Homo sapiens: one gene and its partners. The protein of the gene in region 3 purifies or fractionates together with the protein of the main gene of each other region. This does not show direct contact. Each region holds a gene or a part of one and is shown on either strand. Other genes may lie near its edges. The genes, in order: PPARA, OCRL, GOLIM4, ATF1, WRAP73 and GPC1.

The links.
Region 1: the proteins of GOLIM4 (region 3) and PPARA purify together in Homo sapiens (co-immunoprecipitation; one large-scale study listed by IntAct). This does not show direct contact.
Region 2: the proteins of GOLIM4 (region 3) and OCRL purify together in Homo sapiens (co-immunoprecipitation; one large-scale study listed by IntAct). This does not show direct contact.
Region 4: the proteins of GOLIM4 (region 3) and ATF1 purify together in Homo sapiens (co-immunoprecipitation; one large-scale study listed by IntAct). This does not show direct contact.
Region 5: the proteins of GOLIM4 (region 3) and WRAP73 purify together in Homo sapiens (co-immunoprecipitation; one large-scale study listed by IntAct). This does not show direct contact.
Region 6: the proteins of GOLIM4 (region 3) and GPC1 purify together in Homo sapiens (co-immunoprecipitation; one large-scale study listed by IntAct). This does not show direct contact.

What each region holds. Positions count from the first base shown.
Region 1 is NC_000022.11:46,156,629-46,161,425, reverse strand, and holds part of PPARA (peroxisome proliferator-activated receptor alpha), read right to left. Parts: intron 385-4,797; exon of another isoform or gene 104-384; intron 1-103. UniProt on the Homo sapiens protein: Ligand-activated transcription factor. Key regulator of lipid metabolism. Activated by the endogenous ligand 1-palmitoyl-2-oleoyl-sn-glycerol-3-phosphocholine (16:0/18:1-GPC). Activated by oleylethanolamide, a naturally occurring lipid that regulates satiety.
Region 2 is NC_000023.11:129,542,538-129,547,334, forward strand, and holds part of OCRL (inositol polyphosphate 5-phosphatase OCRL), read left to right. Parts: intron 1-2,420; coding exon 2,421-2,500; intron 2,501-4,797. UniProt on the Homo sapiens protein: Catalyzes the hydrolysis of the 5-position phosphate of phosphatidylinositol 4,5-bisphosphate (PtdIns(4,5)P2) and phosphatidylinositol-3,4,5-bisphosphate (PtdIns(3,4,5)P3), with the greatest catalytic activity towards PtdIns(4,5)P2.
Region 3 is NC_000003.12:168,011,791-168,016,587, forward strand, and holds part of GOLIM4 (Golgi integral membrane protein 4), read right to left. Parts: intron 1-4,797. UniProt on the Homo sapiens protein: Plays a role in endosome to Golgi protein trafficking; mediates protein transport along the late endosome-bypass pathway from the early endosome to the Golgi.
Region 4 is NC_000012.12:50,770,141-50,774,937, reverse strand, and holds part of ATF1 (cyclic AMP-dependent transcription factor ATF-1), read right to left. Parts: intron 1,490-4,797; exon of another isoform or gene 1-1,489.
Region 5 is NC_000001.11:3,635,685-3,640,481, reverse strand, and holds part of WRAP73 (WD repeat-containing protein WRAP73), read left to right. Parts: intron 1-1,659; coding exon 1,660-1,732; intron 1,733-3,383; coding exon 3,384-3,487; intron 3,488-4,451; coding exon 4,452-4,538; intron 4,539-4,797.
Region 6 is NC_000002.12:240,438,159-240,442,955, reverse strand, and holds part of GPC1 (glypican-1 precursor), read right to left. Parts: intron 1-4,797. UniProt on the Homo sapiens protein: Cell surface proteoglycan that bears heparan sulfate. Binds, via the heparan sulfate side chains, alpha-4 (V) collagen and participates in Schwann cell myelination.

The DNA of each region.
Region 1 (4,797 bases), on a different chromosome or scaffold from region 3:
AGAGACGGGGTTTCACCATGTTGGCCAGGCTGGTCTCGATCTCTTGACCTCGTGATCCACTCACCTGAATTCTAATTTTTAATTGTTCCTTCTTGTCTTTCAGAGGCTTCCTCCTTGAAGAGTCTACAACAGACCTGATACCATAATTGGGCACACATCCTTCTGAAATTCCTTCTAGAAAATGATTTAATCTACTAAGAAAGCCCACATTTGAATTCATTCATTCCAAAAAGAGTCTCCATCCACTTCCTAGGTTTTGAGCTCTTTTTATGAGTCCATGGAAGCTGCCGTGGTTTTCTCTGAGTCCATGGCCATATTTTCCCTCTGGGTTCTTGTTTCTTTTAAGTCTTATACCTCTATTAGTATTAAAGATCATCAGCTGTGCTTGAGTGTGGTTAAATATTCACTTTCACTTAGACTTCTGACCTAGACACTAACAGCCAACCTTGCTAGATTCATCTAAGTAAAGGGAATGCAACAGGAAAAAAAGCCAATAATTTTTGGTTTCCAGAGTGAAAGAAAAATACTGGGCTGGACATCATGAATCACACCTGTAATCCCAACACTTTGGGAGGCCAAGGCGGACAGATCACTTGAGCCCAGGAGTTTGAGACTAGCTGAACATGGCTAAACCCCATCTCTACAAAAAACACAAAATCTAGTTGGGTGTGGTGGTGTGCACCTGTAGTCCCAGCTGCTCAGGAGGCTGAGGAGGGAGGATTGCTTGAGCCAGAGAGGTGGAGGTTGCAGTGAGCTGAGATCACACCACTGCACTCCAGCCTGGTGACAGAGTGAGATCCTGTCAAGAAATAAATAAACAAACAATATTGGGCCAGGTGCGGTGGCTCACGCCTGTAATCCCAGCACTTTGGGAGGCTGCAGAGGGCGGATCATGAGGCCGGGAGTTTGAGACCAGCCTGGCCAACGTGGTGAAACCCCATCTCTACTAAAAATACAACAATTTAGCCAGGCATGGTGGCGCGTGCCTGTAGTACCAGCTATGTAGGAGGCTGAGGCAGGAGAATCGCTTGAACCCAGGAGGCAGAGATTGCAGTGAGCTGAGATCGCACCACTGCACTCCGGCCTGGGTGACAGAGCGAGACTCCATCTCAAAAACAAACAAACGAACACCAATATAGATTTCTTATATTGGCATCCTGCTAAATACTCTTCACATTCTCTGTTCCCACGTGAAGCCTGGGACTTTGAAGGCATTGCTACTGCTCTGAATTGAAAGCTTCCACTTACAGCTTTCTGCTGGAAAGATCCCCGCCAGCTGCCACCCTTAGCTGGGAATGGGAGCCTGCTCCTCTGGGTTCAGTGCACCAGCCCTGGATCCGCACTTCCCAGCCCTTCGCTGGCGGTTCAAGACTGTGGTTTTCAGGCTGCTGCAGTGGTGGTCGGCGTCTTCCAGTCACAGCTTGTGATCGGAATCTCTGTCCCTACACTACTTCTGGGTGTACACACCTTCTTCCCTGGGTCTGGAAACCTCTCTCTTGGCTTCGGAGGAATTCACTAGGCACCCACAACCCACCCTCAGTGTCATTAGTCATCACTTGTCACGCAAGTTCTTTGAACGCTGTTAGTGCCAGCTTTTTCTCTCAAGGATCCTTGGCTTCAAACACATTTAAATACCCTCTCCCCTTCATGCCTCTCATTTTCCAAAGCCTTCTTCCCAGGATAGCCCTCTCCTTTGAGTCCCACCTTCAAGATCTTCGCATAATTGAACTTAAAAAATTCCCTCTTTCAGAACACCTTGCTGAATAGACTAGACTAGGCTTCTTTTTATGATTTGAGTATTACAACAATTGAGTGCCTTCCTTTCTGGAAAAGGCTAACAAAGCGAGTTTTTCTAAGGAAAGAAGAGAATGAAAATCGCGTTCTAAACTTTTGTGCACTTCTGATTGCTTGCTTGTGAATCACAGGGAAGCCGTGCAGAGATGGGAAGCCCAACCTCCCTTGCCTGTATCTGGTGACAGGTTCTGTAACAGTTGTCAAAGTGGGGGGAAAAAAACGACAATCGTACAACTCAAGCAAAATACGCTGCTTCACAAATTGTAAAGTCCAAGGACACTGTCAACAGGTCAAATACTGCCCTGCTTGTTTCTATTACAAAAAACTTTTACATACTAAGAGATGATTCCAATTTAAAGCACATTTCTAACTTCTCTGAGCATTTTTTTCTTTAAACATCATTTGTGTTAATTTCATCCCCAATGCACAGATAGAACAGAAGCCAGGTGTGGTGGCTCATGCCTGTAATCCCAGTACTTAGGGTGGCTGAGGCGGGCAGATCACTTCAGGTCAGGAGTTTGAGACCCAGCCTGGCCAACATGGTGAAAGCCCGTCTCCACTAAAAAATACAAAAATTAGCCGGGCGTGGTGGCACATGCCTACAATCCCAGCTTCTCAGGAGGCTGAGGTAGGAGAACCACTGGAACCCCGGAGGCAGAGGTTGCAGTGAGCCGAGATCACGCCAGTGCACTCCAGCCTGGGCAGCAGAGCGAGACTCCAGCCTCAACACCCCCGACAAAAAAAAGAGACACTATCCCAGTTGTCAAGCTGCCTCATAAAATGAGCTAAAATGAGACTGCAGTCTAGAATTTATCAAATTTACTCATAATCCTAGGCAGAGGGCAATATGTTCCTCATGTTAGCAGCCCACTCAATGTTATTTTGTTCCATGTGGAAAACTGCCTGAAAATGCTTCAAAAAATTCATCCCACTTAAATATCCCTATTACCATTTCTTCCATAGATAACAGAAGAAAACTTGTTTCAGATCATCAAGATTTGCATGTCACTTGATTGGCAATCTGTATTTTACAAGCCATATTGCTGAATTATAAACACGCATTTAAATACTCATGTAAAGCTGACCACGAACTTCTTAGAAAGGGACATATCCACGTGTCAACCTCTAAATAACTGGGTCTCTTTTACTGAAACTTGGCAATTTGTCACCTTGGCGTGGTTATCACATAACTTCAGACGTATTCAGTTACAAACAAATGCAAAAAAACTTGGGGCCTCACTCTTTTTTTTTCTGAGATGTGCAGTGGTGCGATCTCAGCTCACTGCAACCTCCGACTCCTGGGTTCAAGCAATTTTCCTGCCTCAGCCTCCTGAGTAGCTGGGATTACAGGCACCTGATACCAAGCCTGGCTAATTTTTGTACATTTAGTAGAGACAGGGTTTCACCATGATGGCCAGGCTGGTCTCAAACTCCTGACCTTGTGATCTGCCCACCTCGGCCTCCCAAAGTGCTGGGATTACAGGTGTGAGCCTCCACGCCTGGCCTCGCTCACTCTTAAAAATGAAAAATGAAAAATGAAAGGGGGTGGGGGAACTTCAATATTCTGCTTTACTATAGCCTCATCTCAAACCATTCCTATGAAGCTCATAATCTTGGAAGCCATTAGTCCTTCTGTATTTGCCTTCCTAACTCTTACTATTCAAAATGATGCTCTTTCGAAAGTTGGCTTGTGGTCTATAAGTTAAAATATAAAGCAAGTAAATCTGAATAGAAATCTTCACTCCTCTTTATCTGCAAATCTCTTAAAATGGAGCAAAATAAAAGCATTCCGATGAGTCCTGCCTCCTGGAACACAGACGATATTTCATCTGAGTTTTCTCCAATTTCTCCTGGGAATATTTTAATGTGACAGTCAGAGCAGGAGAAGGACCCTCACCTTGTTAAATATCAGTGCTGCCCACCTCACTTCCCTTTCACCATACCCCTTCCCTATGAAGTCAGTTGTGTTGAATTTAAATCCATGATCTTGCAGAAAGAAAGAGGATTTTATTTAAATAGATCCTCAGGTCATCTTATAAAAATTCTATTTAATCCATAATATACCCCAAATCTAGTGATGATTATGAAGGGGACCCTTTCAGCGGCAGCCCTCACCTTCCTAACACCGCTGTAATGGGAGGTACATATTGGACATCTGGAGGAAACACCTGCTCCCTACAGAAGGAAGAAGAGCTCTCTCTCAGTCTAGGTGTGGGGGAAGCTGCAGAGGTCTGGGACAATTTCGCTGCGGTGGGATGGAGCGGGCCATCATCCGTAGGTGCCGCTGTCTGCACTCCTGTTTAGGTGCCTCCCCCTTCAGCCAGCTCCCACCTACATCTCAGTACTGTGGTGACCACACAGGCCCATCAATACATTCTTCTTGAATTAAATTCTATTAATCAGGTACTTATTCAATGAACATTTACAAGTACCTACTCAGTTTACACGGCTAGCGGGGCAGAAATAAATAAGACATCCTCTCTGCCCTCAAGGAGTTAGACTCAGCGAGGACAGTCAGACTAACAGAAACAGGGGTGCAGGCAGCACCGGGTCCTGGCTTGACGGAACTGTGTCCAGGCATGGGGAGATTCACTGGGCCTGCATTTCAGCAGATCCCTCTTCAAGATGAAGAGGCCTGGTCCAGGTATGCCATGGAGTTGGAGTAAGAGCAAACACAAGGTATAGCCCTGCCAAAACCTGAGGTCACAATCACCTTCAAAACACACAGGAGGCCGGGTGTGGTGGCTCACGCCTGTAATCCTAAGACTTTGGGAGGCTGAAGCAGGTGGATCACCTGAGGTCAGAAGTTCAAAACCAGCCTGGCCAACATGGTGAAACTCCATCTCTACTAAAAATACAAAAATTAGCTGGGCGTGGTGGCGGGTGCCTGTAGTCCCAGCTACTTAGGAGGCTGAGGTGGGAGAATTGCTTGAACCCGGGAGGCGGAGGTTGCAGTGAGCCAAGATTGTGCCACTGCACTGCAGCCTGGGTGACAGAGTGAGA
Region 2 (4,797 bases), on a different chromosome or scaffold from region 3:
CCAGGTACTGTTCTAAGCCCTTTTCATTAGTTAGTTCATTTAATCCACATGTGAGGGTTACTATAAGATAGTAATATCATCATCCCCCTTTTATAGATACAGAAATTGAAGCACAGACAGGTTAAGTCACTTGTTTGCAATTAGGGAGTAGAATACCTGAGATCTGATCCTATGTAACATGTCTCAGAATTACACTGAGAAGTTTCTCTTGAAAGCATTTGCTGGAGACACCTAATACCATAATACCATCTGTAATCCTCATATTCTTGTCTCTCTGGTGTCTTTTCTGACTCGAGTGTCCAGAACTTTTTACTTTTGGCTTTTTTATCCTAGAACTTGAAGCCTGACTTAAATCTTTAGGTCTGTGGTTCCTACTGTCAACCATAGGAAATTTGCTTGACCAAAATTACAATTAAAAATCAGGGTTTTTTTGGAAACAGGGAATCAAACACTTAAGATTCATATTTTTCAAGGATAATAGATTATGACAAAACCTGTTTGACCTTTAACCTTCCTTGAACAAATCAAAGTGTTTCCTAGGGATAAGGCAGAGTTGGCATTCAGGATTTGTCACTCTTTTCTGTTTGACAACTACCAAATTCTGAATTCCATTGTTTTGCTGTATACCAATTATTTCTAATCTTTATATTCTGAAATGAATAATTACACTCAGAATTTTTATGCTTATTCTTAGCCCTACTCTTTTATTGTAATTTAGTGGGTAACACGTAGTAAATACTCAATAAATGTTGGTGAAATTCACTTAAATTCTCAGTTTATTTGTTTTGTAATAGTTTTTAACAGTACTGTCCAGATGAAGCTTTAATGCTAATGTTCAACACCATTTCTTGTTTATGTATTTTGAGATTTTAGTGGTTTGTGTTTATCTTCCTCAAAGTAAGCTCTTCCTCCTTAACCCTTGATTTCTCAGCCTTTTATCTGGTTTCTGGTTTCCATCTGGGTTTATAGGACTCTCCACTCAACTCATGAACTTTCCAGATGGAAAGGGGCCTGCCCCATATTCCTGTAATCACCTTAGAGTACAAACCCCTGCAAATTAGGCAAGAAGGATCACAGCAGAAAAACAGCATTAATACTTTTATTTCCCTTAGTTCTATCTAAGTAATTACTTATCCTATCCCAGGTTATCCTCTTCAAAGTTAACACATTTGAAAATGCAAAAAGCAAAAGCAACAAGCACCCCCAAAAGACAACAAAATAGAAATCAAACCCTTCAAAACAATGACATTTTAATGTCAGAAGTTGGACAGTTTCATTGAAAAATTCACCGCTGCTTATAGCTTAATTAAGCTAGTTAATTTATTCAGCCAGTATTTGTTGAGCATCTATTAGGCTGCAGACAAAACTGAATATGATCTGGTCTTTGCTTTCAAGGAGCTGAAATCAGTGAGGGGAAATAAATATAACCATAATGGAGTGTGTAAGTGTTCTATTAGAGGGGCAAACAAAGGCGATAAGGCTGCTGGTTCTGCTTGGGGGTACTGAGGACAGTTTCATGGAGGAGGTGATATTTGAGATGAAACTCGGAAAGAAACAGAGTGTTCCTGACAAAAAACTAAAAACAATACTTGAAGAGTGCTTGACTTTGAGAATGCTAGTTGACGTTCAGAATGGCTGTTTACCAGTAGGTCGTACCTTGATTCTGGACCACTAAGGATAAATAATAAATGAAAAATTAATATTTCAGGAGTACGTATGGATTTAGAAGTATGGATTTCATCTGGGGAGTCAGGTTTACTCATGTTTATGTAGAAATACCAGCGTAAACTTGGAAACCAGAGAAGAAACAAGGGATTTGAAGGCAATCCAGTTGTGATATCTGCCACCTTGTTGGTCACTGATATTTTGACCAATCCAGCTGGCTGAGCACCCCCTCTTACTCCTCCATGAACCTGAATGCTTGTTTGAAGAGACAGATCCATTCTTTGGTAAAAAGCCATGGGAATATAATTGGAAGGTTAATTTATGAATTTTCTAATTCATTGATTCCACACACACGAGCAACTCCTGTGTGCCAGGCTTTGTGCTAGGTACTAGAAATTCCGTGGTGTAAAGATAGCTGTGGTCCCTGCACTCATGGACTTCACATCTAGCTGTCAGTTCTTCACTCTGGTATGCATACTCTGAAGCTATATACTCTGTAATTCATGCTCTTAAGCTTGTACACTGTTTTTAGGATATATGGCCTAGAGAACAGTGTGGGTAATCAGATGTTCATCACCACTAGCATCCTTTTAGGCCTAGAGCAATATCTAGCTGTCATGATGCTCAGATCCAGGGAACTAGATGCAGCAAGTCTAGTAAATACAGACTAGATTTGTATAACAGGACAGTGAAGTATTTTTTTGCTAAATGAGTTTTTCAGTGGCTGTTCTTTGATGCGTTCTTCTGTTTCCTAGGTTAATAATCCAGTTGCATGAGAAGGAACAGCATGTTCAAGATATCATTCCTATAAATAGCCACTTCAGATGTGTTCAAGGTACTAGCTTTAATTCCTTAGCTAGTTTTATAATGTTTTTTCTCGGTCATTACTGCATTATGTAATACCATACATATTTAAATTTGTCAGTGCATGTAAAATGAAATGTATTACTCTTTGCATAAAAAGATAACATTGAGGAGATGATACTTTCTCTAAGAATGCTGAAGGGTTATATCGAAATATATTTGTATATGTGTGTCTATAGTCTCACCTGTTTCCTTGGCTTGGGTTAGAGATGTATGTAGATTGTTACCTGTGTAGGTAGTTTTTTATGCTGACTGACCTATATGTGGATTTAAATAACATTCTTGGGCTTAACGGACACAGTGCTCATAAGGTACCAAGGTCACTTGGATTCACACACATTCAGCACTTTCTCCACATGCTATTTGAAATTAAGACATTTGGCAACATGCCTTGCCAGACTGTAATATCTTACACTCAATTGTGCTGATTCTCAAACCTTGACATTGGTGAATCATAAGAAAATTGACTCTGGGGAGGAAATATTTGGCCTCCTGCCCTCAAATTTGGGGACGGAGCATAGAAAATCTGTTGTTTCATCTGCTACAATGAAACTTAAAAATTGGGAGGTTTGTGTAGGAGGTGTTGCTTCTGTCATCTCACATTGCTCTAGAAAGGAAATTGATACTAGAGAACAAATGCATTCTGTTTTCACTAGGACCAGTGGCTTTATCTAGCAGAAGCATTCTGTATCAATTGTAGCTTCTTGGAAAACTTGTTTTTTCAAGACAAGGTCATTTCCCAGGCTCAAGTGATCCTCCCACTTCAGCCTCCCAAGTAGCTGGGACTGCAGGTGCACCACCCCCCAGCTAATTTTTTTTGTAATTTTTGTAGTGACGGGGTTTCGCCATGTTGCCCAGGCTGGTCTCAAACTCCTGAGTTCAAGCAATCTGCCTGTCTCGGCCTCCAAAAGTGCTGGGATTACAGGTGTGAGCCAGCATGCCTGGCCTTTCTTGGAAAACTTAAATCTTACCTTGCATGGATTATTTCTTAAACTACATTGAACTTTTTTTTTAATCACTAAGTGACATGTACATAATGTAATACATTTGGAAAGAACAGAAAAGTGTAAAGAAAATAGGTCACTTAAATTCCCATCCTTTCAGAGATAAACACCTAGCATTTTCCTTTTTTCTACACATACATTGCAGGGTGAGTGATACTCATCTTATACAATTTTTTGTCTCTTCTACATGCTATTGTATTATGAGCACTTTTCCATGCCATTAATGGCTATATACCATACCAGTTTATGAATGGTCCATAATGTAATTATTCCCCTATGTTGACATTTGGGTTATTTTTCACTAGTATCAATAGTAATATGATGAACATCTCTGCACCTAAATATACCTGCACATCTCTTATTTCCTCAGGATGTATTCCTATAAGTGAAAATACTAAGCTAGTGGATATGACTTTTTAAGAATGCATGTGTTAAGAATTAAAAATAACTTCAATGAATAGTGTCCATATTTGTATGGAAGAATGAAGTGATAGCTATTTAGCCTGCCCTATGTGAGAGAGACATACTAAACAAGGTAGCCACGTTCCATAGTAAGTTGCTGTGGCCACCTCACTTTTCAAGGTGTAGGCCTTCACAGAGGGGAAGAGCCAAAGAACATGACTTTAAATTAATATCCTATTAGCTTTGTACCTTTTTACTCTACCTCTAGGATCTCTTTTACCCTGTTTCTCTTAGTATTTTTAATAAGAAATCAATTGCTGATTGTTAGATCGTAGTGCTGCTTCTTAGAACCTGGGAAAATATGTGCACACATGTAACGTAGTTCCCCATGACTAAAGGAAGACTTACTTTTGATTTTCATCTCCTTTCTATTTCCTGACCCCTGCATCTATTTTGTAAACTGTGGCCAGGCGCGATGGCTTGCACCTGTAATCCCAACATTTTGGGAAGCTGAGGCAGGAGGATTGCTTGAGCCCAGGGGTTCAAGACCAGCCTGGGCAACATTGCGAGACCCCATCTGTACAAAAATAAAATTAAAAAAACAACATTTGCCAGACGTGGTGGCAGATACATGTAGTCCCAGCTACTTGGGAGGCTGAAGCAGGAGGGTTGCTTGAGCCCAGCAGTTCGAGGCTGCAGTGAGCTGTGATTGTGCCACTGCATGCTAACCTGGGTGAGAGAGTGAGGCCATCTCTAAAGAAAAAGAAAACCGGCTGGGCGCGGTGGCTCAGGCCTGTAATCCCAGCACTTTGGGAGGCCAAGGTGGGCAGATCACAAGGTCAGGAGATTGAGACCATCCTGG
Region 3 (4,797 bases):
CCTCACAAGGCAGGGTATTCCAACAGACCTGCAGCTGAGGGTCCTGTCTGTTAGAAGGAAAACTAACAAACAGAAAGGACATCCACACCAAAAACCCATCTGTACATCACCATCATCAAAGACCAAAAGCAGATAAAACCACAAAGATGGGGAAAAAACAGAACAGAAAAATTGGAAACTAAAAAGCAAAGCGCCTCTCCTCCTCCAAAGGAACACAGTTCCTCACCAGCAACAGAACAAAGCTGGATGGAGAATGACATTGACGAGCTGAGAGAAGGCTTCAGACGATCAAATTACTCTGAGCTACGGGAGGACATTCAAACCAAAGGCAAAGAAGTTGAAAACTTTGAAAAAAATTTAGAAGAATGTATAACTAGAATAACCAATACAGAGAAGTGCTTAAAGGAGCTGATGGAGCTGAAAACCAAGGCTCGAGAACTACATGAAGAATGCAGAAGCCTCAGGAGCCGATGCAATCAACTGTAAGAAAGGGTATCAGCGATGGAAGATGAAATGAATGAAATGAAGCGAGAAGAGAAGTTTAGAGAAAAAAGAATAAAAAGAAATGAGCAAAGCCTCCAACAAATATGGGACTATGTGAAAAGACCAAATCTACGTCTGAATGGTGTACCTGAAAGTGATGGGGAGAATGGAACCAAGTTGGAAAACACTCTGCAGGATATTATCCAGGAGAACTTCCCCAATCTAGCAAGGCAGGCCAACGTTCAGATTCAGGAAATACAGAGAACGCCACAAAGATACTCCTCGAGAAGACCAACTCCAAGACACATAATTGTCAGATTCACCAAAGTTGAAATGAAGGAAAAAATGTTAAGGGCAGCCAGAGAGAAAGGTCGGGTTACCCTCAAAGGGAAGCCCATCAGACTAACAGCGGATCTCTCGGCAGAAACTCTACAAGCCAGAAGAGAGTGGGGGCCAATATTCAACATTCTTAAAGACAAAAATTTTCAACCCAGAATTTCATATCCAGCCAAACTAAGCTTCATAAGCGAAGGAGAAATAAAATCCTTTACAGACAAGCAAATGCTGAGAGATTTTGTCACCACCAGGCCTGCCCTACAAGAGCTCCTAAAGGAAGCGCTAAACATGGAAAGGAACAACCGGAACCAGCCACTGCAAAATCATGCCAAATTGTAAAGACCATCAAGACTAGGAAGAAACTGCATCAACTAACGAGCAAAATAACCAGCTAACATCATAATGACAGGATGAAATTCACACATAACAATATTAACTTTAAATGTAAATGGACTAAATGCTCCAATTAAAAGACACAGACTGGCAAATTGGATGAAGAGTCAAGACCCATCAGTGTGCTGTATTCAGGAAACCCATCTCACGTGCAGAGACACACATAGGCTCAAAATAAAAGGATGGAGGAAGATCTACCAAGCAAATGGAAAACAAAAAAAGGCAGGGGTTGCAATCCGAGTCTCTGATAAAACAGACTTTAAACCAACAAAGATCAAAAGAGACAAAGAAGGCCATTACATAATGGTCAAGGGATCAATTCAACAAGAAGAGCTAACTATCCTAAATATATATGCACCCAATACAGGAGCACCAAGATTCATAAAGCAAATCCTGAGTGACCTACAAAGAGACTTAGACTCCCACGCATTAATAATGGGAGACTTTAACACCCCACTGTCAACATTAGACAGATCAACGAGACAGAAAGTCAACAAGGATACCCAGGAATTGAACTCAGCTCTGCACCAAGCGAACCTAATAGACATCTACAGAACTCTCCACCCCAAATCAACAGAATATACATTTTTTTCAGCACCACACCACACCTATTCCAAAATTGACCACATACTGGGAAGTAAAGCTCTCCTCAGCAAATGTAAAAGAACAGAAATTATAACAAACTTCTCTCAGACCACAGTGCAATCAAACTAGAACTCAGGATTAAGAATCTCACTCAAAACCGCTCAACTACATGGAAACTGAACAACCTGCTCCTGAATGACTACTGGGTACATAACGAAATGAAGGCAGAAATAAAGATGTTCTTTCAAACCAACGAGAACAAAGACACAACATACCAGAATCTCTGGGACGCATTCAAAGCAGTGTGTAGAGGGAAATTTATAGCACTGAATGCCCACAAGAGAAAGCAGGAAAGATCCAAAATTGACACCCTAACATCACAATTAAAAGAACTAGAAAAGCAAGAGCAAACACATTCAAAAGCTAGCAGAAGGCAAGAAATAACTAAAATCAGAGCAGAACTGAAGGAAAAAGAGACACAAAAAACCCTTCAAAAAATTAATGAATCCAGGAGCTGGTTTTTTGAAAGGATCAACAAAATTGATAGACCGCTAGCAAGACTAATAAAGAAAAAAAGAGAGAAGAATCTAATAGATGCAATAAAAAATGATAAAGGGGATATCACCACCGATCCCACAGAAATACAAACTACCATCAGAGAATACTACAAACACCTCTACACAAATATACTAGAAAATCTAGAAGAAATGGATAAATTCCTCGACACATACACTCTCCCAAGACTAAACCAGGAAGAAGTTGAATCTCTGAATAGACCAATAACAGGAGCTGAAATTGTGGCAATAATCAATAGCTTACCAACCAAAAAGAGTCCAGGACCAGATGGATTCACAGCCGAATTCTACCAGAGGTACAAGGAGGAACTGGTACCATTCCTTCTGAAACTATTCCAATCAATAGAAAAAGAGGGAATCCTCCCTAACTCATTTTATGAGGCCAGCATCATTCTGATACAAAGCCAGGCAGAGACACAACAAAAAAAAAGAATTTTAGACCAATATCCTTGATGAACATTGATGCAAAAATCCTCAATAAAATACTGGCAAAACGAATACAGCAGCACATCAAAAAGCTTATCCACCATGATCAAGTGGGCTTCATCCCTGGGATGCAAGGCTGGTTCAATATACGCAAATCAATAAATGTAATCCAGCATATAAACAGAGCCAAAGACAAAAACCACATGATTATCTCAATAGATGCAGAAAAAGCCTTTGACAAAATTCAACAACCCTTCATACTAAAAACTCTCAATAAATTAGGTATTGATGGGACGTATTTCAAAATAATAAGAGCTATCTATGACAAACCCACAGCCAATATCATACTGAATGGGCAAAAACTGGAAGCATTCCCTCTGAAAACTGGCACAAGACAGGGATGCCCTCTCTCACCACTCCTATTCAACATAGTGTTGGAAGTTCTGGCCAGGGCAATTAGGCAGGAGAAGGAAATAAAGGCTATTCAATTAGGAAAAGAGGAAGTCAAATTGTCCCTGTTTGCAGACGACATGATTGTATATCTAGAAAACCCCACTGTCTCAGCCCAAAATCTCCTTAAGCTGATAAGCAACTTCAGCAAAGTCTCAGGATACAAAATCAATGTACAAAAATCACAAGCATTCTTACACACCAGCAACAGACAAACAGAGAGCCAAATCATGAGTGAACTCCCATTCACAATTGCTTCAAAGAGAATAAAATACCCAGGAATCCAACTTACAAGGGATGTGAAGGACCTCTTCAAGGAGAACTACAAACCACTGCTCAAGAAAATAAAAGAGGATACAAACAAATGGAAGAACATTCCATGCTCATGGGTAGGAAGAATCAATATCATGAAAATGGCCATACTGCCCAAGGTAATTTATAGATTCAATGCCATCCCCATCAAGCTACCAATGCCTTTCTTCACAGAATTGGAAAAAACTACTTTAAAGTTCATATGGAACCAAAAAAGAGCCCGCATCGCCAAGTCAATCCTAAGCCAAAAGAACAAAGCCGGAGGCATCACACTACCTGACTTCAAACTATACTACAAGGCTACAGTAACCAAAACAGCATGGTACTGGTACCAAAAGAGAGATATAGATCAATGGAACAGAACAGAGCCCTCAGAAATAACGTCGCATATCTACAACTATCTGATCTTTGACAAACCTGAGAAAAACAAGCAATGGGGAAAGGATTCCCTATTTAATAAATGGTGCTGGGAAAACTGGCTAGCCATATGTAGAAAGCTGAAACTGGATCACTTCCTTACACCTTATACAAAAATCAAGTCAAGATGGATTAAAGACTTAAACGTTAGACCTAAAACCATAAAAACCCTGGAAGAAAACCTAGGCATTACCATTCAGGACATAGGCATGGGCAAGGACTTCATGTCTAAAACACCAAAAGCAATGGCAACAAAAGACAAAATTGACAAATGGGATCTAATTAAACTAAAGAGCTTCTGCACAGCAAAACAAACTACCATCAGAGTGAACAGGAAACCTACAAAATGGGAGAAAATTTTCACAACCTACTCATCTGACAAATGGCTAATATCCAGAATCTACAATGAACTCAAACAAATTTACAAGAAAAAAACAAACAACCCCATCAAAAAGTGGGCGAAGGACATGAACAGACACTTCTCAAAAGAAGACATTTATGCAGACAAAAAACACATGAAAAAATGCTCATCATCACTGGCCATCAGAGAAATGCAAATCAAAACCACAATGAGATACCATCTCACACCAGTTAGAATGGCAATCATTAAAAAGTCAGGAAACAACAGGTGCTGGAGAGGATGTGGAGAAATAGGAACGCTTTTACACTGTTGGTGGGACTGTAAACTAGTTCAACCATTGTGGAAGTCAGTGTGGCGATTCCTCAGGGATCTAGAACTGGAAATACCATTTGACCCAGCCATCCCCTTACTGGGTATATACCCAAAGGATTATAAATCATGCTGCTATAAAGACACATG
Region 4 (4,797 bases), on a different chromosome or scaffold from region 3:
GTCTCTACTAAAAATACAAAAAATTAGCTGGGCGTGGTGGCGGGCGCCTGTAGTCCCAGCTACTCGGGAGGCTGAGGAGGGAGAATGGCGTGAACCCGGGAGGCGGAGCTTGCAATGAGCCGAGATCAAGCCACTGGACTCCAGCCTGGGCGACAGAGTGAGACTCCGTCTCAAAAAAAAAAAAACAAAAACAAAAACAAAAAACTCTTTTTTCCAAAATAAAAATTTTATAGTTTCATCTCATAAACAACAGTACATACTGTTTTACTGATGTTATCAGAATGTAACCTTTATTTGTTCACTTTTTTAAAGCTATTATTTCTAAAATTAAGGTTAAGATTAACAATGTGTTAAAAACTTGTTCAATACAGAATAAATTTTATATGTACGAATGCATTTTCTGTAAAAATAAAGTAAGCCCCCAGTTAGCATATATAAGCTTAACAGGAGATAACCCAAAGTCAGGCAGAAACAAGGGAGTAGTGAAACACCGCTTCAAAAGCACCATCAATGGGAATAGAAGGAACTGAGAAATGGTGGGCTGAGATCTTGCTGACATAGAGAGAATGTCAGGGAAGGCAGGGCCCTTTTAAGAAAACTTGCAGCCGGGCGCGGTGGCTCACGCCTGTAATCCCAACACTTTGGGAGGCCGAGGTGGGTGAAACACCTGAGGTCAGGAGTTCAAGACCAGCCTGGCCAACATGGAGAAACCCCGTCTCTACTAAATATAAAAAAGAAATTAGCCAGGCATGGTGGCACATGCCTGTAATTCCAGCTACTCGGGAGGCTGAGGCAGGAGAATTGCTTGAACCCAGGAAGCAAAGGTTGCAGTGAGCTGAGATAGTGCCAATGCACTCCAGCCTGGGCAACAAGAGTGAAACTCCATCTCCAAAAAAAGAAAAAAGAAAAGAAAACTTGCAAAGAAAGAAACATTATATGTTAGGCAATAAACTAAGAGCTTTTTAAGCTCAACATTACTGATCATTAGAGAAATGTAAATCAAAACCGCAATGAGATACCATCTCACGTCAGTCAAATGGCGATTACCGGCCTGGCATGGTGACTCACACCTGTAATCCTAGCGCTTTGGGAGATCGAGGCGGGCAGATCACTTGAGGTCAGGAGCTTGAGACCAGCCTGGCCAATATGGCAAAACCCCATTTCTACTAAAAATACAAAAATTAGCCAGGCGTGGTGGTGGGCACCTGTAGTCCCAGCTACTTGGAAGGCTGAGGCAGGAGAATCGCCTGAACCCAGGAGGCGGAAACGATGCAGTGAACAGAAATTGCACCACTGCACTCCAACGTGGGCAAGAGAGCAAGACTCAGTCTCAAGAAAAAAAAAAATAGCTGGCATCGTGGGTGACTGTGGTCCCAGCTACTTGGGAGGCTGCCCAGGAGGCGGAGGTTGTAGTGAGCCAAGATTGTGCCACTGCACTCTAACCTGGGCAATAGAATGAGACTTTGTCTCGAAAAAAAAAAAAAAAAAAAAAAGAATGGCAATTAAAAAGTCAACAGTTGGCGAGGTTTGGAGAATAAGGAATGCTTTTACGTTGTTGGTGGGAGTGTAAATTAGTTCAACCATTGTGGAAGACAGTGCAGCAATTTCTCAAAGACCTACAGGTAGAAATACCATTTGACCCAGCAATACCATTATTGGTATATACCCAAAGGAATATAAATCATTCTATTATAAAGATACATGCCCACATATGTTCACTGCAGCACTATTCACAATAGCAAAGACATGCAATCAACCCATATGCCCATCAATGAGAGACTGGATAAAGAACATGTACATATATATCATGGAATACTATGCAGCCATAAAAAGGAAAGAGATAATGTCCTCTGCAGGGTCATGGATGGAGCTGGAAGCTGTTATCCTCAGCAAACTAACAAAGGAACAGAACATCAAACACTGCATGTTCTCACTTATAAGTAGGAGCTGAATGGTGAGAACACGGGGACACATGGTGGGAGAACAACACACACTGGGGCCTGTGGAGGAGGGTGCGGTGGGGGAAGGGAGAGCATCAGGAAGAACAGCTAATGGATGCTGCGCTTAATACCTAGGTGATGGGTTGTTCTGTGCAGCAAACCATCATGGCACATGTTTACCTATGCAGTAAACCTGCACATCCTGTGCATGTACCCTGGAACTTAAAAGTTGAAGGGAAAAAAAAAGGCTAGGCGCACTCCAGCCTGGGTAACAAAGTGAGACACCCGTCTCTTAAAATAAAAGAGAGAGAGAGAGAGAGAAAAATATATTTAGACAGTTACCTCACCCCAGCTTTAGAAATGGGACAACTTGGCCAGGCACAGTGGGTCACACCTGTAATCCCAGAACTTTGGGAGGCCGAGGTGGGTGGATCACTTGAGGTCAGGAGTTCGAGACCAACCTGACCAACATGGTGAAACTCGGTCTCTACTAAAACTACAAAATTAGCCAGGGGTGGTGGCACATGCCTATAATCCCAGCTACTTGGGAGGCTGAGGAAGGAGAATCGCTTAAATCCAGGAGGCGTAGGTTGCGGTGAGCCGAGACCATGCCATTGCACTCCAGCCTGGGCAACAACAGTGAAACTCCATCTCAAAAAAGAAAAAAAAAAAAAAAAAAGGAATGGAGCAATTCAGGCACAACAAAACTTGCAAAAATATAGCCAAGTGCGATGGCTCATTCCTGTAATCCCAGCACTTTGGGAGACACTTTGTACCCTTAAGCGATAGGATCGCTTGAGCCCAGGAGTTTGAGACCAATCTGAGCAACACAGTGAGACGCTATTGTTACAGGACAGGGTCCCAATCCAGACCCCAACAGAGGGTTCTTGGATCTCGCACAAGAAATAATGGGTCAAGTCCACAGTGTGAAGTAAAAGCAAGTTTATTAAGAAAGTAAAGGAATAAAAGAACGGCTACTCCATAGACAGAGCAGCCCCGAGGGCTGCTGGTTGTCCATTTTTATGGTTATTTGTCGATGATATGCTAAACAAGGGGTGGATTTTTCATGCCTCCCCTTTTTAAACCATACAGGGTAACTTCCTGACTTTGCCATGGCATTTGTGAACTGTCATGGCGCTGGTGGGAGCACAGCAGTGACGACGACCAGAGGTCACTCTCGTGGCCATTTTGGTTTTGGTGGGTTTTGGCCGGCTCCTTTACTGCAACTGTTTTATCATCAAGGTCTTTATGACCTGTATTTTGTGCTGACCTCCTATCTCATCCCGTGACTTAGAATGCCTTAATCATCTGGGAATGCAGGCCAGTAGGTTTTAGCCTCATTTTACCCAGCCTGTTTAAGATGGAGTTGCTCTGGTTCATACGCCTCTGACATTTCCCCCCGTCTAAGAGAACCCTTAATCCTAAGGGTTGCAGAGGGACGAAGATCCATCTTCTATAACTTCTTCAGGCTAAATAGGGCAATGATATTCCTGCCTGCCTATGAGGGTCTCTTGCATTCAGGGTAAAAAGGAGCTCAGTCAGAAAGCATCAGTATGGTAAGGTTCATTCATAACTCAAGTTTCAACAAAAGGTGGTATCTGGAAAATTAGTAAGAAAACGTTCAGTAAGCTTGTCCTGTATTCCTACACAAAAAGTATAACAGCAATATATTCCACAAGAGTAAAGCAAAATAGGCTGGGTACAGTGGCTCACACCTGTAATCCAGCACTTTGGGAGGCCGAGGCAGGTGGATTACCTGAGGTCAGGAGTTCGAGGCCAGCCTGGCCAACATGGTGAAACCCTATCTCTACTAAAAATATAAAAGTCAGCTGGGCGTTGTGATGTGTGCCTGTAATTCTAGCTACTTGGGAGGCTGAGGCAGGAGAATCACTTGAACCCAGGAGGCGGAGGCTGCAGTGAGCCAAGATGGTGTCACTGCAGTCCAGCCTGGGCGACAGAACAAGACTCTGTCTCAAAAAGAAAGAAAGAAAAAAAAAAGAGTAAAGCAAAATAAGTAAAGTTATTCCAAATAAACTAAATTAGAAGACTTTTCATGAACCAGGCAACCACTGGAACTAAGCTGATATCGGGTTGTTAGCTGATTGTAATGTGCCCAGAATCAGAATACTGATCCAGATTTTTAAATTACCCATCCCTCTTATTTCTTCTGAGCAACAATTAGAGATTACTGGTTGGTTTACAAGAATACGCAGGGTTAGCCTAAATTGCAGAAACAAACTTAAAAACAATTAATGAGACCAGAATTTAATAACAAGTGTACCATAGTTTTTGAAACATAGTATTTCTCTCTCCAGTTTCCCATTTTTACTAAAGACAAATTATGGTAAGACTGACTTGCTTTATTATACTTGGCCTGATTGTTTGTATAAAGTGCAGCAAGAATAATAATTTTTCACATAGGCTTTTTAATTGGCTTTGATGGAACTCTGTTTCATAAGGAATCTCAGATAAGACTTTTTTAAAAGCCAAGCCCTGACATGGGTTTGTACCCTTAAATACCTATAACTTGGGTAAATTTCTCTCCTTTTGAGGTCCCAAGATAACTTGGGGCTCCTGGACAGGTGAGAAAGTGACATTCTTTACTTACCATAGGTCAGAAACCCTGTACAGGCACTGTGTAGGCAAGGTATGAGGCCAGTTCCCCAAAGGGCTTTTATTGGCTCTACAAGTCAAGTTTGATTCCTTAAAGAAAAGCACACCATTTCAGTCAAAGCCTTGGTAAAATAACCACTTTCTCCAATTGTATTCTGTTACAAAAGAAAACAGATTCTTATTGCACTTATGCAAATAATTACATTGCCATAAGTTAAGAATACTCACAACTAGTTTCCAAATT
Region 5 (4,797 bases), on a different chromosome or scaffold from region 3:
CCACCCTGCCCTGCTGATGCTCAGAGCCTCGGGCGCTCCACCCCGCCCTGCTGATGCTGAGATGCTCGGGCGCTCCACCCCGCCCTGCTGATGCTCAGAGCCTCAGGCGCTGCACCCACCCTGCTGAGTCTGAGAGGCTTGGGCAAGGTTTCAGCCTCAGACACGCTGGTGGGAAGTAGCACGCTTCCTCGCTCAGGCCCCAGCGCCCTCCTTGGCCTCAGCTTGTGGAGCTGTTAGAGGAGCAAGTGCTCTGTGCAGCTGGAGTTCCGAGGCATGGTCCCCAGAACGGCCAGTGTGTTTCGGGTTCAGCATCAGCACAGGAGCCCTTCCGTGCTGCCACGTGACCCCTGGAGCTCGTTGATCCACTACCTGTGTGTTCAGGACTTCTCTCCTGAACGCTGTATATGTTGTTTGGAGAAACAATTACAGACATCAGATTTTCTTTTCTGTTGTAAGAAGAGATGATGCGTAGACATTTAAATTAAATCATTTGTTAATATCCTATACTGACAACCTGGCAGCGTTTGCAGGAGTGACACTGTGGACATGCTGTGCCCCACACGCTGCGGCCCCACTTACGCTGCTGGAGACGGTCCCCCACCCCGGGCCTCATCCTCAGCGAGGACCCCTGCCTGACACACACGGAGCTGGCAGTCAGCACCCCACCCCGCATGGAGCTGCGCAGCCCTGTGTCCCCACACACGGAGCTGGCAGTCAGCACCCCACCCCACATGGAGCTGCGCAGCCCTGTGTCCCCACACACGGAGCTGGCAGTCAGCACCCCACCCCGCACCTTGTGTCCCCGCACCTCGGCCATATTTCAGTTAACTACCAGATTCATCAGTGGGCCGGGGATGTGGGAAGCAAGATGATTCCCTGGTAGGCTCCACGGGGTCTCAGTGGGAAATGCAGGTGGAGGGACACAGCAGCCCTGGAAGTCCCGCGGCGCTGCCACGGGGAGGGCTGGACCACCCACTGCGGTGCCTCTCCCTCAGCAGGCACGCCCTCGTCGGCCTGGTTAGAAAATCATCTTTTGGCCTCACTGTGCCAGCCTAGTCAGCTCTCAGCTCCCTGAGTCAGGGAAAGGGGTGGAAAAGTGGACAGTCCAGCAGCGCATGTTCTAGAACCCTCTGCAGATGCAGCCAGGCCAGCGAGCACACGCAGGAGGCAGACGGACACCTTCTTGGGTGTTGAGTGGCTGCTCCTGCCTCAGGGCTGCAGATGCAGGCTCACAGCCCCCTGGTGAGTCCCGGAGTGGCTGCATCCAATCTCCAGATCCTCTGTCTTCCCATAAAGGAGACTGAACCCGTGGTGGTTTCTAGATCAAGATTTTTCTCTGAGTAACTCAGGGTTATTATAACATGCAACCTATGGTCACTTTGAAAAAGCTAATGAAAAAGCACTTGGATTTAACTTTGTGTCACTCAATTTTGGTATAAAACAACAACAACAGAAAACCAAGAACACCAAATTTACCGTAACCACAGTAAAATACGCATTTGAATATTCCGGTAGGAGGGCAGGCATCCCCCAGGTCCTGATAGATCCACTCCAGCAGTCAGGCCTGTGCTTGGGGACGCGTGGGCGGGTTGAGGATTGAGACGGTCTCTGATGATGCTAAAGAAGTGTTTCCTTTCTCTTTCCCCTTTCCCCCAACAGCTGCGGATAACCGTCTGGTCCTTGTGCACAAAATCCGTGTCTTACATCAAATACCCGAAAGCTTGTCTGCAGGGTGAGTCGATCGGAGCCACGCAAAAGCCATTTCTTTGCAGCTGTTTGACTTTTTTGTCACGGGAAGTTTCAAAGAGGCAGAAGTAGCTTCAGCAGCATATCAACACATAGCCAACCCCCTTGGGCTCTTTTAAAGGAGACCTTAGGTCTCCTCATACTTCATCTGTAAATATTTCCATATGTGTCTCAAAAAGGCAAGAGTCCCCTTTTAAAACATGACCACAGTGACTCAAGACAACGTGGCCTAAGACATGGAAGAACGGTGGCGTTGATGCCGGTCCCCTTGACCTTGGCGGCAGAGCTGGGCGTTCAGACCCCTTCCAGCCGATGCCTGTTGAGAGGCCCACCTCAGGCATCCAGTTCTGAGCTTTCTCTCTTCTGTGGACTAAATATGATGTCTGCGAAAGGGGGAGGTCTTGCCTGTCATCTCTGGGCATCCCAGAGGGATATGTGACCAGTGTCCCTTCCTTGTGGAAGCCTGTGAGCCATCTGGAAGAAAGGGGGCCGGCGCAGGGTGGCCCACTGCCAGCGCGTCTAACTGGACCGCGCAGAGCTAGTGGGAGGTGCCACTCCTGAGTCCTGGACGACACCGCACTGTCTTTTTGCGGAATGAAACATACACAGTTGGAATGATGCTTTCATTTTTCTCTGTTGCTGCCAGCGGTTTGGAAATTGCATTTGAATGCAATGCAGTCACACTCTTATTCTTATAGTTGGAATATTAGCGTCCCTCCAGATGAGATACATATCTCTTGATAGGAGTGGACACCGTGGTTTCGTCATTTGAGGTATTCTTTTCACTCAGGAATGATGAATTCTGGCCTAGGGCTTTTTAAGCTAATACAGAACTGGAAAATAAGAGTTTAACATTTTCAACTAAAGTTTCTTCCACATTTTCATCTTATTATTACTTTTTTGAGACAGGGTCTTGCTCTGTCACCCAGGCTGGAGTGCAGTGACACGATCACAGCTCAGTGCAGCCTCGACCTCCTGGGCTTAAGTGATCCTCTCACCTCAGCCTCCTGAGTAGCTGGGACTACAGGCACACACCATCACAGCCGGCTGATATTTTGTAGAGATGGGGTTTCACCAAGTTGTCTGGGCTCCTTTCAAATTCCTAGGCTCAAGCGATTCACCTGCTTCAGCCTCCCAAAGTGCCGGGATTACAGGCGTGAGCCACCATGCCTGGCCACACATTTTCATCTTCAGTTTACTTCTTCCAAATAATTAAATTCAAAGGTAAAATAAATATGGTAGGAACCAGCTGCCTTTTGCCTAGCTGGAGATAGCCCTGGGTGTCCCGCAGCTTAGACATGGGGGGACTCGAAGGCCTGTGTTTCTCACTCATATTTGTGATTAATCAGAGGTCACATCACTTGGTATTTTTGACAGAGCCTTGCAAACCGGCTCCTGTGTGTGTACAGCTTCCCCCAGCACACACTGCGTTGTGAGGGTGAAGGCACCGTGCCTTGGGTTTCTCCTCTGCGCTAGAATGTTCTTGTCTGTCTGAGGAGCAGTGCTCGGCATTGTGCCATTTCCCTTCTTTTCACCTCTGCTTTCTTTTCCTCCTCCTTCCTTGTGAATTACTACTGTGGTTTCTCTTGCTTGATTTTGTGGCCGCTTGATTTCAGTGCATTTGCCTCTTCCCACAGGAATCACCTTCACCAGGGACGGCCGCTACATGGCGCTGGCAGAACGGCGCGACTGCAAAGATTACGTGAGCATCTTCGTCTGCAGTGATTGGCAGCTCCTGCGGGTAAGGCGTCCCCCAGACTGGAATAAAGTTGTCCTGCTGACTGTGGAGGGATCGAGTGAAGTAGATCCTTCCAGATTCCAGGGGATCTTTGGTAGGATATGGAGCAAGGTGATGTTGTATTAACAAAGGGCAGGTGCGCTGCGAATCACTTCCAGTGGCACCCGGTTGTGTGTTCAGGAGACTTGGTGAAAAGGACGCGTGCCCAGGTGTTTTAAAAGTGAATATGCTGTCACATTTGAGCCCTTTTCCTTGTCCTGTGTGATGGTGTTTGCGCATGTGTGTGCCACGTCGGGAGTTGGGGGGACGTGGAAGTTCACCTTGACTGAGGGCCTGCATTAGGCAGGGCGCTCTGCCAGGTGCCCAGGCACAGAGGGCACTGCCCCCACAGCAGACATATGAACACGATTCCAGCACAATCCATCATTAAGGTAGAGCAACCTCTGGAATGCTGTCAGAGTGCAGAACCCGGGATCCAGGCAGTGCTCTGGAAGGGACTTGTCTGAGCTGGGTCTAAAGGAGTGAGCCTGGCCAGGCAAGGAAAGGTGAGGGGGAGAGTGTGCACATGAGTGCAGGTGCGGGGAGACCAAGCCACCTTCGGGGGCTGGCCAGGCAAGGAAAGGTGAGGGGGAGAGTGTGCACACGAGTGCAGGCGCGGGGAGACCAAGCCGCCCTCGGGGGCTGGCCAGGCAAGGAAAGGTGAGGGGGAGAGTGTGCACACGAGTGCAGGCGCGGGGAGACCAAGCCGCCCTTGGGGGCTGGCCAGGCACTGACGCTGGCATCTGTGGCGGTGCAGCCCCAGCAGCAGCTCTACAGGGATTTCATGCATTTCCAGGATAGAGCTGTTGAGATTTTGTCAATTTCTATATAAGGAAATTAAGTGCGTTAAGAACATCAGTCATAAATGCAATTATTTATTTACGAAAATATTTTCCAAATTTAATGTTTCCCCCCCTTCCTTTGGAAGCATTTTGATACGGACACCCAGGATCTCACAGGGATTGAGTGGGCCCCAAACGGCTGTGTGCTGGCAGTGTGGGACACCTGCTTGGAGGTATGAAGATGACCAGGTGACATGTTTGCTTTCGAGAGCTTTTCCCGGAATTTCATGCTTTCTGAATGCTGCAATATAGTTTGCTTTATCTTATTTCAGATAACAAGTTGAGCTTTGTTTTAAAAGACAGGGTCTTGCTCTGTCACCCAGGCTGGAGTGCAGTGGTGTGATCACGGCCCACTGCAGCCTCGACCTCCTGGACTCAAGTGATCCTCCTACCTCAGCCTCCCAAGTAGCTGGGACCACAAGCATGCACCAC
Region 6 (4,797 bases), on a different chromosome or scaffold from region 3:
CTGTGCCCAGAGAGCGCCTCAGGTGGACGGGGGTGAGTGGCAGGCTGGGGCGTGGTCACTCCCTCACACTGTCACCAGGGTCTCGGGCACATCTGTGCTGAGCTCTAAGCCCATTACAGAAACACGGCCCAGTGCTCAGGAGGCCACAATCACAAAACACCCAGAGCCTCGGGGTCTTTGCCACCTGATGGGAAGATGTAGGTGTGCCGGGCTGGGCTAGCTCCCCACTACAGGCTAAACTGTACCCCCAAAACCCACATGGCTGAGGCCTAACCCCGATTCCTCAGGATGTGACTTTGGGTGTGGAGTCTGTGTGACACCTCTCGTTAAGAAGAGATGGTACCGGTGGGCCCTGACCCAATTAGAGTTGTGTCCTTGTGAAGAGGGGGAATTCGGAGACAGAAGCGCACACGGGGAGAGCGGCCTGTGGAGGCCAAGGTGGGATTTACCAGCCAAGGAACACCTGGAAGCTGGCAGTGTGGAGCAGACTTCCTCACGCCTCAGAAGGGGCCAGCCTGGTGGACGCACACTTGATCTCAGGCTTCCAGGCTCTAGAACCACGGACGACCCATGTCTGCAGCTGCAGCTGCTCAGCCTGTGGCACTGTTCCGACAGCCCTGGAAACACTTGTGCTCCCAACCCCGGCACCCAGCCCCACCCGGTACCGGGAGGGACTCGGGGCCTTCCCCACCCTGTGTGGAGCTCAGGCCTGCCCAGGCGGGGGCCCCGGCAACAGGGAGGGTACGTGTTGGCCGATGCCCGGGAAGTCAAGCTGTGGGGAAAGGCCGGAGGAGGCGGGTGCTGTGGGTGGGCACAGGGAGGACACCGTGGAGGGAGGGGACAGGTGTGCCAGAAAGGTGGGTCAGCAGGAGCTGGCGGGAGATGGAGCTGAGGCCACAGGCAGGAGAGGGGATGGTGTGAGGCTGGCCTGGCCCTCTCAGGGGCTCCTAAACCCACCCGGATTCCAGACTGCTACCGAGCCTGGGGCAGTGGGGTATGCCCCTCACACCTGTACTTCCCCGCCACCCACGGCGGGCCAAGGGCAGCCAAGGAGGCTGCAGCTCTGGGCCCTGCTCCTCAGCATAGCCCTCACCCAACACCTGGCTGCTGCGTGCTCCCGCCTGGGTGTGGGGCCTGGAGGTGGAGGGAGAACCGCCCGCTTCCCTGGCCCAAGCCTCAACACCCTACACTGCACCCCCCACCCCGTCAGGAGACTTCAAGCGGCTCAGGGCACCTGCCCAGGCCTGTTCCCAGACAAAGAAAAGCCACCACAGGCACGGCAGCGAGGAGCCCAGGCTCCGGGCAGGCGGCTCCTGTCTGGAGCCCCCACGTAAAGTGGGCAAGATCCCGGGCCCCACAGGGCTGTGCTGGCGACTGGCAAGATCCAGGCCGGCTCAGGGCTCTGGGCACGTCGACACTGGACAGGGCCAGGGCTGGGCAGAGGCCCCGCATGTAGGAGTGCCCACCCCAGCCTCCACCACGGGTCCAGTCTTGATCTGAAATAACTGAGCCAGGCCCTGTGAGGACGGTCTGGCTTAAGAAAAGGCGTCCAGCCTCTCACTGGCCCGGGCACGGCAGATGTGGGGCCCCAGGCCAGACCTGACCAGTGTGGCTTCGGGTGAGCCCCTCCCCTGGCTCGTCTCCTGTCTAGTGCCAGCCCATGGCTGACACCTGTGCCATGCACATGGATGCCATAGAACAGACATGGGCATGCTCAGACACCCACTAAGCTCTCCTCCGAGGTCTGATGTGCAGCCCTGCGGTTCGGCCACCAGGTAGGTATGCCCCCCGTCCTGCTGTAGGGAGGCGTCCTCGGTACCTGGGAAGGCGCGTTAACCACAGGCTCACACTGTCCCTAGAGATTGCTGGTGTGAAGGTACAAGCCCCAACAGACTGGACTGCCTTATCTCCCTGGCTTGGCACCTGTGGGCACCTGAATAGGGTACCTGTCCACTAATCCTGGGGCACTTGGCCCAGTGTGGGTGGCTGGTCTGCCCTGTTGGGGACATGCAGGGCTTCGTGGCACACGCTGGGAACAGCCCTCCTAGCAGTCCTGCCCCCCACAGGCAGTGGAGCCAGGCCGGAGGGTGAGGCCCAGCTGTGTGGAAGTACGACTCTCTGGGCGGCACGGCCAGGAGGAGCTGGGCAAGACCGGAGGCAGGGAGGCCAGGAGGAGCTGGGCAGGACCGGAGGCAGGGAGGCCAGGAGGAGCTGGGCAGGACCGGAGGCAGGGAGGCCAGGAGGAGCTGGGCAGGACCGGAGGCAGGGAGGCCAGGAGGAGCTGGGCAGGACCGGAGGCAGGGAGGCCAGGAGGAGCTGGGCAGGACCGGAGGCAGGGAGGCCAGGAGGAGCTGGGCAGGACCGGAGGCAGGGAGGCCAGGAGGAGCTGGGCAGGACCGGAGGCAGGGAGGCCAGGAGGAGTCCCGGTTAAACGTTCTAAATGAGCCTAAGAGATGGAGCCCAGGCCCAGGACAGGAGAGCGGGCTGGGAAAAGCACGAGCCTTCCAAGAAGTGCAGAGCCTGGGACAAGCAGCCTGGCCTGGCTTTACTGGGCAGTGGTCAATGCTGTAGCCAGATCTGGCCCTAAGAGGAGCGCTTCACCAGGCTTCGGTTTACTCATTTGTAAAACAGGTCTACAAAGACCCCTTCCGTCTGATGTGTTAACCAGACAGTCATGGGAAACGCTCCACAAGCCGGGTTTCCCCGTGTTCTAAGAGCACCCGGGTTCATGAGTGCTCTTAGGGTACCGGATGCCATTAACTGAGAGGGGTGTGTGTGGGCCTTTGCAGAGGGTGTCCGGGGAGAGGGGGGACACAGCCCGAGGCTGCCCACGAGGTGCACAGCCCCAGCACCTTCTCCCTCCTGGCCACCTTCACAGGAGGTCACGATTATTCCCTTTCTCTCCTGTGAAAAGGCCCGGGGACACCGGGGATGGGATGGGGGTGGGGGCATCTGTGCCTGAGGAGTGCTGTGGCCTGCCTGGCATGGGAGGCTTGGCGGTCCAGCAGGGACCCAGGCCATTGCATCACGCAGGTGGCCCTGTCGGATCAGGGCTCCCCTGGGCTCCGCTCGGTCCTCACGCTGGGGATGATGAGCTCCTCTCATGGAGGGAAGAGCAGCGACACAGCAAAGGCTGAGGACCACCTGGGAACCACGCTGAGCCACCTGGACAGGACAGGGCACAGGGAACTGTCTGGTCTGGTGAGGGGCTGTGTGCCAGGCAGCCTCCGAGAGGCCCGCTGAGCAGGACTGAGAAGCAGATGCTGGTGGGCTCTCCCGGGCCCAGCCGGAAACACCCTTTCAGGGATGTGGGAAGGAGAGGTCCAGGCCCTCTGAGGATGGTTCCCCAGAGTCTGTGTGCCAACCACCCAGGCGGTCAAAAGTGGCACAGAGAAGAAAAGATTCCTTCGGAGGGGCCCAACGAGTGGGTGCTTGGTACAGGCTCCAGGGCACGCTGGTGCCCGCTCCAGCTGGTAGGCGGGCTGCCACTCTGGGCACAGGAGCGGCTGGGCAGTTTCTGTGCCACCGACAGTCCCATGCCCCACTCTGACTTCTGCCCCCAAAACTAGACCTTAGGGCCCCTCCTCTGCCTCAGGCTGGGAGACCCTGAGAACAGGGGTGTCTGCTCCAAGGAGACCCTCCTCTACCCTCCATGTCCCGCTCCCCACCCAGCACAGCCAGGTATAAAGCCAGGAAGGCCTGGGGGTGTCCTCCGAGAAGCTATCCTGGGCCGGGAGCCAGCCGGGTTCTGTGGCTACAACAGGGAAACAGTTAGAGGTGGTCCCAGCGACCAGGGAGCTCAGGTGCCAAGGTGGGGCGCTGAGACCCCAGCAAAGGAGCAAACAGACACACATCACATCACATCAGACATCAGGAGGCCAGACAGGTGCTCTGGGAACACCTATGCCCAGACACAACCTTGCAAGCAAAAGCAGGAGGCCTGCTGGCACGCGGGCAGTGATTCAGCATGAGGGCTCCTGGCAGCGCAGGGGCACCCGGGGTGCCACTCGGCTCCGCCCTTGCCTTCTGTGCCGTGCCCTGGCATAAAGGGAGGGTGGCCGGGTGCCCTGCTGCAGTGCCACCGTCCAGCTGGTGGCACCCAGGCCTGCTTCCTTGCCCATAAAATGGGATGACCACTGCTGTCACTGCAGCCTGGCCTGGCTGTCCAGAGGACAAAGGAAGTCTCAAAAGGGAGCCCAATATGTCCCGACACTGCCCTCTTTCATGAGCTAAGTCTCCTGTCACCCACTGCCTTTTCTGGTCCCTGGGGCAGAGGCTGGGAAGGCCCGCCACACACCCAGGGCCAACTGCTCTCCTTCCCACGAGGAAGTATCAGATCTCTACCCCACCTGCTCCGGGCCAGCGAGGTGCCCAACCCCAGGGGGTTCGCATTCCCTCTGAGGAGGTCCCCCTGGAGAAGTCTGGATGCAGGAGAGAGGGGACTGAGAATGGTGCCTACTAGGCCACAGAGGGTCCAGGGCTCCTGGGAGGATCTGCCGCCCAGGGGCCACCAGAGGGCGCCCGTTCCACGGAGCCCAGGCCCAGCCGACAAAGCAGGAGGGGACACTGGGCTTGGCTGCCCCAGGACTGCTGCGACCCGAGGGAGTCACCCTGTTTCCCTCAGCCCACGTGGCTCCCACACTGTCTTCTGTACCCTGGGTCCCGAAGGTTACTCCCCACTTCTGCAGCCATAGGGGGTGCAGGGAGAGAGGTTCCTGTCGGAGGGGCACCGACTGGAGAGGCAGTAATCCTGCCCAGTGCAGTCCTGGCCTTGCAAGTCTGGAGGAGGGTGGCACC